2 separate regions of the Homo sapiens genome follow, and region 1 is linked to region 2. A link means that fine-mapping ties the variant in region 2 to the expression of a gene that starts in the linked region. Tissue or cell type: putamen. Region 2 holds a variant in brackets; the other region holds the start of a gene. All regions are shown on one strand. Distances are from middle to middle.

Region 1 (5,223 bases), 820 kb after region 2:
CAGCTCAAAATAGAGAAAACCAACTTTTCAAAGAACCAGCTGGAGTTCAACAGGAAACCACAGCAGAAAAACCAATGATTCCCGGTCAGCCAAGGGGCAGAGGGCTAACTGGGCATTTCAGCATCACTGCCAGCTCCCTGGGCTGGTATTACCCGCACGCAAGGAAACAGGAAGACTGACTGCCAGCCCATAAGTCCACCACACACATATCACGCCAGTATGCACAAGGACGGACACAAACTCAACAGATGCTCAACACACTGATGTGCAGAAACCCAGACACATACGTGCACAAGAGACACTGGCACACGCACATGTTCACACAGGTGCACGGGCACCCAGATGCAGGTACACACCAACGTTCCACAACACATGTGCACACACTCACAAAGGTACACACACATACACGGACCCACCCCCGGATGCAAGCCAGAGACCTGTTCAGGCAGGCAAAAGAGAGAGGCGCACGCTCCTGCCTGCTGAGCCTTTTGGAGACCCGGGCGCTCCCCATGCATAAATGGCCCCCTGCTCAGACCAGTCAAAACAACCTGCTTTCCAGCCAAGCCCTTCAGTTGGAGCACGAGGCTCACTAAAGCACGGGAAGGGCGCGGAAAGTCCTCAGCGCAGGCCTTGCCCTCCCAAGGGACTCCCAGGTAACCCTTTTCCAAAACCCAGGCGAGAGCAGCGGAGAGAAAGGAGCTAGAGAAGTGCGTACTCACCAGCCCATCGCAGTTGCTGAGCGCCACAGAGGAGGCTTCGGCTAGGCCGGCCACGTCTCCGACGTAGAGACAGCTCCCGAGCAGGGGCTCCACGCGGGTGGTGCCCTTCTCGCCCTGCCACTCCATAGTGGCCCCGGGCGCCACGAGGCGGGCGTTGGGCCGCAGCCGCAGGTGCAGGTCTCGGCCAAAGACCGTGACATTGTAGAAGAGGTGACTGCCAGGCTCCTCCTCGTTGCCTCCGGGGAAGCTCGGGGTCCGGACCGGGGCGGCCCTGCGGGCTCGTACCCCTGCTCTGGACGTAGCTGCCGACACCACGTGGGACACCAAGCGGCCCTGGGCGTCAGTGCGCACGGGCACCGCCAGGATGCGCTCCGCTCCGTGCCCCAGGGGCCCGCCTGCAACGGGAAGGGGCGTTAGATCGGCGGAGACCACGGAGCCCCAGTGCCTCAGAGACCCGCCGGCAAGCCACGCCCCCCCAGACCCCGCCCCACTGCGAAGGGAAGGGGCATTCCGCCAGGCGACCCCAGAAGCCAGCCTGCACCTCCCCGGCTTTCCTGCAACCGGGAAGGGGCGTTAACAGGGCCACCACTCCGGGGCTCCGCCACTCCCCAGCCGTTCCCTCCTCCGGAGACCTTGCCTGCCAAGAGCTCTGCCCCCTGCCCCGTTCAGGGTTGGGGCTCGGTGGGAACCTCCCCGTGCCCGAAGGGACGACCCCGTCAGAGAGTCCCCCGACCCTTGCACCTACCGTCCTTGGCAGGACGTGGAGCTGCTCGGAAGCCATTCCGGGTTGGCCCCCTTACCCGTGTGCCACGACCCCTCGGCGGGCCCCTGCCGCCCGAGTGCCCTCACCGCCAGCCTCCGGAGCGGCGGAGTCTCGGCTTCCCCGAGCACGAGCGGCCTGTCCTGCCTGTCCAGCTCCCGCTCAGCCCGCTGCCGGCCCCGTCTCCCCGAGCGCCCGAGGACTGGGAGGGGTGGAACAGGGTCCCTCCGATCTCCGGGGATTCCCTGCGGGGCGCCCCAACCAATCCTTAGGGCCCAAGGCTACGCGCTCGGCAGCCGGCTCCTCCGGAGCGTCCCCGGACGCGAGCCCCGGCGCCGCCTCGCCCTGGCTCCCCCCTCGGACCCGCTGGGGCTGACTCTGCGCTCTTGGCCGCGGGGCTTTTCCCGGCCCTCCGTCCCCACCCTCCGCGACTCAGGAGCCGCCAGTGCTCCGAGGCTCCCCCGGCCCAAGGCGCTCGGGGGCGGTGCGGGGCGCCCCCTGCGCGACCAACCCGGCCCCGAAGTTGGCCAACTTGGCCCCGGGCGGGGCGCGCGGAGTTTGCCCAAGTCAGGCTGGACGACGCCTGGGGAGGGGGCGGCGGGGCACGCGGGACAGGGCCAGGCCGGCGGGGGTCCCGGGGAGTAGGGGCCGGGCCGCACCTACCTGGGGGGTCGGCGGCGGCGGCGAGCCTGGCGTTCGCGGGCGGCGGCGGCGGCGGCAGGAGCGGCGGCGGCAGCAGCAGCAGCAGCAGCAGCAGCGCGGGGCAGAGCAGGCGGCGAGCGGCTCCCGCCGGCGGATCCATGGCAGCCGGACTGCAGCCGGGGCCCCGCACTCGCAGCCGGCGCGAAAGTTCCCCGCGAGCCGCCCAGCCCACATCTGGGGGCAGCTGGAGCCGCCCGCAGCTGCAGCACCGCAGGGCGCGGGGCGGAGGAGGCGAGGCGCGGAGGGGCGGGCGGGGGAGCGCGGAGGGAAGGCGGGGAGAGGGAAGGAGCGAGCGAGCGAGGGAGGCAGGCGGGAGGGAGGGAGGCGAGCGAGGGGGAGGGCGGGGACGGCGGGCGCCTCAGCCTGCGGTGACCCGGCGCATCTTGGCGCGGCCGCCGCCGCCGCCCGCTTCCCTCTTCGCGCCGCCGTCGCCGCGGTGCCGGGCTCGCAGCGAAGCAGAGACACCCCGAGGCGGCGGCAGAGAAGCGCCGCGGGCCGGGCCGGGGGAGCCCCGCCGCCAGCCACCCCAGGGGCACAACCTCCGAGGAGCGGCGCCGGCCGAACGTCCCCACCTAGAGAGCCCTTGGGGTGCCGGGTCCCACCCATCAGCCCTGGAATTCAAGGGGTGCATCCCCCTGTCTCTGTGCTCTGGGGCAGGACAGGGTGAGGGAATGAAAGGGGAGGGGGGACTGACTACTGGGTCCAAGGTCTGAGCCAGGCCGAATGCCCAAATAGAGGCCGCAAAGGCCAGAAGATGCTGTTAGGAGGGTACACCCAGGGCGCGACCCCAAAGATCAACTTTTGCCCTTACTGAGAGAGGCAAGGCTCCTTCAGTCCCCAGTTCCTCTTCCTCTGAAGTCCCTGTCCCCTGTCCCCCATCTGCCTTCCCATCCCTCCGCTGCAGCCTCAGCACAGCCTCTTCCTGCCAGACCTGGGCTCTCTGCCCATGAGCACAGTCAGGCTCCTGCCCTCACCTGTCCTCAACCCCACGTATGCATTCTGTCCTCCCGCCATTGCACTCCCGGCCCCCAACCTGAAATGGCCTCTCCAAGCTCTGCCTACCTTTTCCACCCAAGCATCCAAGGACACCTGGGCCCATTCTGGGGCCAGTTTGCTGTTAGAGCCCGTTGCCAACCGGAACCCCTCCCCAGTCCCTCCTCTCCAGCAAGGCCCTGATCCTCCCATGCTGTCTGAGCTCAGCGGCCTCTCTCCAGGGCCTGCCTGAGAGCCCCCTCTCAGGCTGTTGATCATCTCTGCCCTGGGACCCCCAATTTCTGCCTCACTTCCCCAGAGGGTGAACACCCACCCCTTTGATTTTCTCATTTGCCCTGCCCCAGGTCTGTGTGGCCAGGGCTTTGGTCTTTGCTTTGGCCAGGGGCAGAGGACCCGGAGATGACTCAGGCCTCTCCCTGCTGGCCAGGAGGTCCCAGTCGTTGGGGGAAACACGACTTACACAGCAGGCTCTAACTGTGATCTCACGTCCTTGGTTCTTTCGATTGTGGGTCCTGGGTGTGAGAGCATCGCAGCTGGACAGCCATCTTCACCTGCAAGCTGTACTCTTTCTGTGTCACCTAAGGGTGCCCGAGGCTGGATCCAGCTCCCAGGCATGGTGAGATGTCACATGGAAATTTAGATTGGTAACTTTTCTTGAGATATTGGAAGATGTGGCCACGCTAGCCCCACAGTCCTGCTTAGCAACCATTAAATGGGCACTTACCTTGCAGTTTGTGGCAGGTCCCGCCTCTCCTCACTCTCTGTAGGCATCTGCTCTCGTGACCTGTGATGACCCAACTGGTTCCAGAGAAAGTTGGAACTGGAATCCTAGTATACCACAGAGATGACTCCAGAGCTGGGCATCCAGGAGGACTTCCTGTAAGAGGTGGCATGAGTTGAATTGTGAAGGCTGGGGGAGCTAGGCAGCCCAGAGTTGGGTCCAGCCAGTTGCTGTCCTGGAACCCATGACGCATTCCTCCTGTGGTTGTCAGCGCTTCCATCCTCTTCGAAACACGAGTGAAACCCAACCAGCAGCCGCCCCTACTTCAAGGGGCATGTTCTGCACCTTCCTGCCGTGTCTATGGTTGGGTATTTCTTTACACAGCGCCTAAAACTTTTTTCAATTTTTTAAAGGATACTTTAAATCACTACTATAAATGGAAAAGCCAGCATCTCACCATGTTTCCATAAATCAAAGATAATTGCTAAAAATAAATACAACAAGAAGAGAAATGTTATCAAATTCCAGATACTTTGACCTGCTAAAGATACCGAAGGCTGAAGCTGATTAGTAAGTGTTACAAAAGCCTTAAGATGGACTAGCACAGAGGTCGTTGTTCTGATGTGATTGGAAGGATGAAAGGAGGCCTGAAAAGGAGTAACTCTGACTTTATGAGTTGATGGCATCTTCTAACAGGTTCACAGAGCTAAATTATTTTGTATACTTTGGGATACTTGCTTTGGGATATTTTTGGGGGAAAGAATTTGTCTCCTGGACACTGAATAACCCCAGGCAGCTGATTCTTCCCACATCACCCGTGCCCCTGCCACCAGGGATGAGTTGGGGATGGAGCAGCACCCTTGCCTGGCCCTTCCTTTAGTGCCCCCACTGTCACCCACCAGGGTGGTGGATGAACAAGGCTCACATGCACCTAACTTCACAGTTAAACCCTCAGGGAGGTGGAGGAGACTTGCAGACACATCCCAGCCCGTGATCATTTGTCCTCCACTCAGAAACAAACAGAAAAACAAAAAACAACCAAAGAACAACAACAAAAATCTTGCTACTTCTTCAAACCTCCATGATTCAAATCTTGCCTCTCCCCCCTTACTGGTGTTTGCCTCTTTCTCTGGTCCCCCTTTTCCTCTTCCAGGTAAAATACGGGACATAGAAGTCCCCAGTGGCTCTCTGCTCCTCTGCATGTTCAGTCTAGGTCCCAACGACAAAAACTAAGGGCCACTGGGCCAACGCCGCCGGATGTGTTGTTGAGCACATGCCACGTGCGTTCGTTTCTACTGGAGCCTGAATGTCTTCAGGTCTGGCTGTGC
Region 2 (5,556 bases):
ATAGATGGAAGATGGTCAGATGGATAGAGAGTTGGGTGAATGGATGGTCAGATGATGGACAGATGCATGGGTGGATGGATGGATGGATGGATAGATGGAGGATGGTTAGATGGATAGATGGTCTGATAAATGGATGGATGGATGCATCTGAATGGTTGGACAGATGCATGTTGGATGGTCAGACGGGTGAATGCATCGAAGGATGGATGGATGGCTGGTAAGGAAGGAGGGAAGACTGGGAAGGAATCAGTGTGTGACTAGTAAGATTGGACAGTCCTTGACTTTGCTGCCAGAGCAGAGGCTCGGTGGAGGTAGCCAGTCATTGGTTCCCCAACTGTACTGCAGACAGATCTATCAGTTCCTCCAAGACCCCTTCGGAACTGCACCAACACCTCATACGACTCCTACATGTTCTCCTCATCACTGAAGAACTGATACGGAAGCTACTAAGGCCAAAGGACAAAAGCTAGGCCATTTTGGACCAGGGCTCAGGGCTCTGTCGATGTGTTTGGGAAGAAAGCACCTGTGAAACATCTCTCAATGTGACAAAGCCATGAACCAGGTTGCCCCATCCATGATCAATGAGACAAAGCAGACAGGAGGGGAGCACATGTGTTCAGAAGTGAGGTGGACCAGGGTTCCAATTTCAGCCCAGCCACATATTAGCTATGTGACCTTGAGCAAATCCCTTCTCCTTAAGTGAAGCTTAAGTGTTTCCATCTGTAAAATGAGGTCAGGCGATCCACTTCCTACCATGCTGGTGAGGATTCAATGAGATAACACTCTGTGCACGACCCCAGCATACAGCCTGGTTTATAGCAAACAATCCATCAATGTTAGTTTAATTTCATTCCATTCAGTTGTCCAGACGGTATTAGGAAACAAAGAATTTATAGGAATAATTTAGAGGAAGTCACAGTCCTGTGTCACTAAACAACAGGGTTGTATTCTGACAAATGTGTCCTTAGGTGATTTTGTCATTGTGTGAACTTCATAGCATGTACTTACACAAACCTAGGTGGCAGAGCCTACTACACACTGGGCTACGTGGTGTAGCCTATTGCCCCCAGGCTACAAAACCAGCACAGCTTGTCACTGTCCTGAATACCATAGATGATTGCAACACAGTGGTGAAAGTATTTATATATCTAAACATACCTAAACATATAAATATGGTATTATAATCTTACGGGACCACCATCATATATGTGGTACATCGTTGACTGAAATGTGGTTATGGGGCACATGACTTTATTACATTTACTCGCTAAAACTATTTAAAGCTGGCCGGGCGCGGTGGCTCACACCTGTAATCCCAGCACTTTGGGAGGCCAAGGCAGGTGGATCACGAGGTCAGGAGATGGAGACCATCCTGGCTAACACGCTGAAACCCCGTCTCTTCTAAAAATACAAAAAATTAGCCGGGCGTGGTGGCAGGCGCCTGTATTCCCAGCTACTCGGGAGGCCGAGGCAGGAGAATGGTGTGAACCCAGCAGGCGGAGCTTGCAGTGAGCCGAGATGGCGCCATTGCACTCCAGCCTGGGTGACAGAGCAAGACTCCATCTCAAAAAAAAAAAAAAAAAAACTATTTAAAGCCAACATTTAAGAATGAGGTAAACTGTGCATCAATTGATGGATGGATAAACAAAATGTGGTCTAACCATGCAATGGAATATTATTCAGCCATGAAAAGGAATGAAGCACTGATGGATGCTACAACATGGATGAACCCTGAAGTCCTTATGCTAAGTGAAAGTCAGAAACAAATGGCTACTTATTTTATGATTCAATGTATATGAAATATCTAGTCTAGGCACAGTCACAGAGACAAAGCAGTTAAGAAGTTACCAGTGGCTGGGGTCAGGGGTATAAAGGGAGTTATTTATTAATGGTTACACAGTTTCTGTTTGGAGTTATGGAAAATTTTGGCAATACGTAGTGGTGATGGTAGCACAACATATTGGGGATGTAATTCATGCCACCAAATTGTACCCTTCAAATGGCTAGCATGGTAATCTTTATGTTATGTATTTTTTACCACAACAACAAAAAAATTTCAAACAAACCAGAAAAAGAATAAGGTCTTAGCAAAGGAAGGATTCTTCCAGTCTGTCTAAAAAAAGAAAGAACTTTGTGCCATATAAACATTAAAAACTTTCCGAGTTAACTGGATGAAGGTGTCTTTTGCCCCTTGAGACCTAAAACGTGTTTTCGGTTTATGAAATGAAATTTGGAAACGACCTGGATGTTTTGCTTTATGTAATTTGGGGGCAGGAGAGAGGAAAAAGAGAAAAACTAACCAGGCGAGTTACTGCCTTTGGAAAACAACCAACCTTAGAATCGTGTTTTGGTCCTCTCAAATGAAGACATACATATTTAGCCCACGTGAGTCCCAGTCCGCACAGACATCACAGCAACAGGAGAAGTCATCTACCACACCCTAGGACCGGGGAATAACTCGCCACGCTTCCCCATTCAGCCAAGAGATTGTTCAAAAGCTGCACAAATGCTAACCCCAGTCAACCATCCACAGCTGCCCTCAGCCCACAACTGTGCCTGCCCGAGATTGTGACGAGCCGGTGGTCAGCACATGTAATGAAGCAAGGGGGTCACTGGAGAAAGAA[T/C]GTACCCAAGGGCAGGCAATGCGCTTGTATCTGAGGACAACGGGGACAGTGGTGGAGGGCACGATAGACGCGCTGTCTGTGATCCTCCCACAGTCTGATGACAGGACCAACACCAAAAGATGTGATCCAAGAAAGCGCTAAGCACCCATACAAGAGCACTGCCCAGGACCAGACGTGGCCTACGGGGACTGCCAGTGAGCTCTGCCCGAGGGCATCCTTCCCATTCAAGTCTCCCCCCAGTCTCTGATAAGAAGATCCACCTTGATGCTATGGACCCCAAGCGTGGCTTTATGGTACAATTTTAACACAGAGATCATTTCGGGAATGAGTTGGGCATCCCCTGCCCTATACTCTATTTCTCTGGCCCAGCCTCCCATCTATGTCCAGAACTGAATGTAAAAAAACTCCAGCCAGGCGTGGTAGCTCATGCCTGTAATCCCAGCACTTTGGGAGGCTGAGGCAGGCAGATCACCTGAGGTCAGGAGTTCAAGACCAGCCTGACCAACATGATGAAACTCTGTCTCTATTTAAAAATATATATATATATATATACATATATATATATATACACATATATATATATATATATATAGAGAGAGAGAGAGAGAGAGAGAGACAGAGGGAGAGACAGAGAGAGAGAGAGAGACAGAGAGAGAGAGAGAGAGAGAGCGCTAGGTGTGGTGGTGCGCGCCCGTAATCCTAGCTATTTGGGAGGCTGAAGCACGAGAATCGCTTGAACCTGGGAGGAGGAGGTTGCAGTGAGCTGAGACTGCTCCACTGCACTCCAGCCTGGGCAACAAGAACGAAACTCTGTCTCAAAAAAAAAAAAAAAAAAAAAAGAAAAAGAAAGAGAAACCTCTATGATGTGCACAAGTTCTGAGCAATCTACACGGCCTGGAGTTGAAGACACGTCACTGGGAACCGACGGGCCAGGAGCACCTCCAAAGCTCTGCGCCTGTCTAGCCACAGATGGAAATCTTCATCTCTGTGTCCATGGAAGCTCGAGGATGGTGCTTTCCTGTCATTTCCTTTCATTTATTGCTTTATCAGTGGCCGTAAGTGTTTCCATCACCAACCGAACAGCATATGTAAACCTGCACACTCTGAAAAAAATTCATTGAAACCCGGAATGATGAACAATTGGAAGGAGACTCTGCTCAATGCAGGCAACGCACATTCCAGATTCTGACATCCTTGTTCTCCCAAGAATCACTGCTGGGACGCAGCCACAACACAACCTGAGCTGTTACACGGGGAGAGGCAAGTTACACTACCTGGGCTCTGAACACGGCTGTCACTCACTGCAACCACTATTTCCTGAGACCTCTCCTATCTACGACCCTTCCTTTTCATGATCTCTGACAAGGACTTCAAAAATACAAACCTCCACAGGAATGAGCGTCTGCGGGGACACTGGTTCTGTGTCATACGGGAGGGTCTCTGGTGTATCAGCCAGGACCTTTATCTCCAAGGGTCAGAACCTGGGTCACGCTAGCTTAAATAACAAAGAGAACGTACTGCCCCTCTTGACTGAAAAATCCAGGAAGATTCAGGTCTGGCTGGATCCAGGCACTCCAATAACATCACCAGGGCTCTCTCCTTCCCCATCTGTCAGCTCTGTTTCCTCCATGTTGGCTTCATTCCCAGGGGAGCCCTCTTCACACTGTGGCCCCCCGCAGCTCCAGACCACATCCTGCCCGCTCTCCCCAGTGGAAAGAGACCCTCTCTAGTTCAGAAGTTCCAGGAAAATCCTAGAATCTGTCTCTTATGAGAATAACTGGGTCACATGGGTATCAGCAGAGCCTGGTGGTGGGGTCAGCCCATCCCAAGATACATAGCTTGGGAATGGGGTAGGGGCTTTACCCAAAGGGAAATCAGGGAACTGTCACAGAAAGGATGGGGGATGGATGTATCCAGAAAAAAATAACCCATGCTCAGCACAGGCAAAGGTCCTGGAAATGGTCGGGCATTGACCTGACCAGCTCTGGCCTGTACCAGCCTCCTCCCCCATGGACCACCTGGCCACACCTGCCCATTCTCCTGCAGACCTGGCCAACTTCCAGGCCACGCTGACCCGAGGCAGGGCTGGCTCTTGCCCTGCTGCCTGCCTGACGCCTCCTATGCCCCTGAAGCAGGGCCTTCTTTTTTCATAAGGGCCCCTGTCTAGAGCCCTAACAGGCCATGTGGCTCCACAACAGACCCACAGATCACTCACTCACTCACACACTCGCTCACTCACTCACGCAGCAATGCAGTCATTCATTCATTCAACAGCTGTCTGGGAGCCCAGCACTCTGCGGGACTCCATTTACACACGCACCACCCACCTAAACTGCGTAACTCTTTATGCTACGTGTTTTCATTTTAAGATGAAGAAAGAAACTAGGGCAACAAGAGGTTAAATAACTCGGCTAAGCTCACATGGCTGGTAAGAAATGGCGACACAGCGCGCAGACCCCAGGACCCGAAGGCTAAGCTCACATGGCTGGTAAGAAATGGCGACACAGCGCGCAGACCCCAGGACCCGAAGGCTAAGCTCACATGGCTGGTAAGAAATGGCGACACAGCGCGCAGACCCCGGGACCCGAAGGCTAAGCTCACATGGCTGGTAAGAAATGGCGACACAGCGCGCAGACCCCAGGACCCGAAGGCTAAGCTCACATGGCTGGTAAGAAATGGCGACACAGCGCGCAGACCCCAGGACCCGAAGGCTAAGCTCACATGGCTGGTAAGAAATGGCGACACAGCGCGCAGACCCCGGGACCCGAAGGCTAAGCTCACATGGCTGGTAAGAAATGGCGACACAGCGCGCAGACCCCAGGACCCGAAGGCTAAGCTCACATGGCTGGTAAGAAATGGCGACACAGCGCGCAGACCCCGGGACCCGAAGGCTAAGCTCACATGGCTGGTAAGAAATGGCGACACAGCGCGC

The links. PIP is the estimated chance that this variant, and not a neighbour inherited with it, causes the effect.
Region 1: ADAMTS2 starts here. The variant in region 2 is fine-mapped to the expression of ADAMTS2 in putamen (GTEx, PIP above 0.99).

Annotation. Positions count from the first base shown.
Region 1 is chr5:179,343,048-179,348,270 of GRCh38, forward strand. ADAMTS2 (ADAM metallopeptidase with thrombospondin type 1 motif 2) reads right to left here and starts at 2,414. Exons shown (of 22, transcript NM_014244.5): 1 at 2,143-2,414; 2 at 720-1,114. The coding sequence starts at 2,281. It overlaps LOC105377759 (a long non-coding RNA gene), which reads right to left. Exons shown (of 3, transcript XR_941311.3): 2 at 3,899-4,051; 3 at 3,314-3,732.
Region 2 is chr5:178,519,987-178,525,542 of GRCh38, forward strand. All of the region lies in intron 2 of COL23A1 (collagen type XXIII alpha 1 chain), which reads right to left. Among named protein-coding and RNA genes, the nearest start is that of COL23A1, 68 kb to the right of the region's middle. RefSeq lists an enhancer at 4,817-5,556. The variant T/C (reference allele first, on the strand shown) is at 2,625.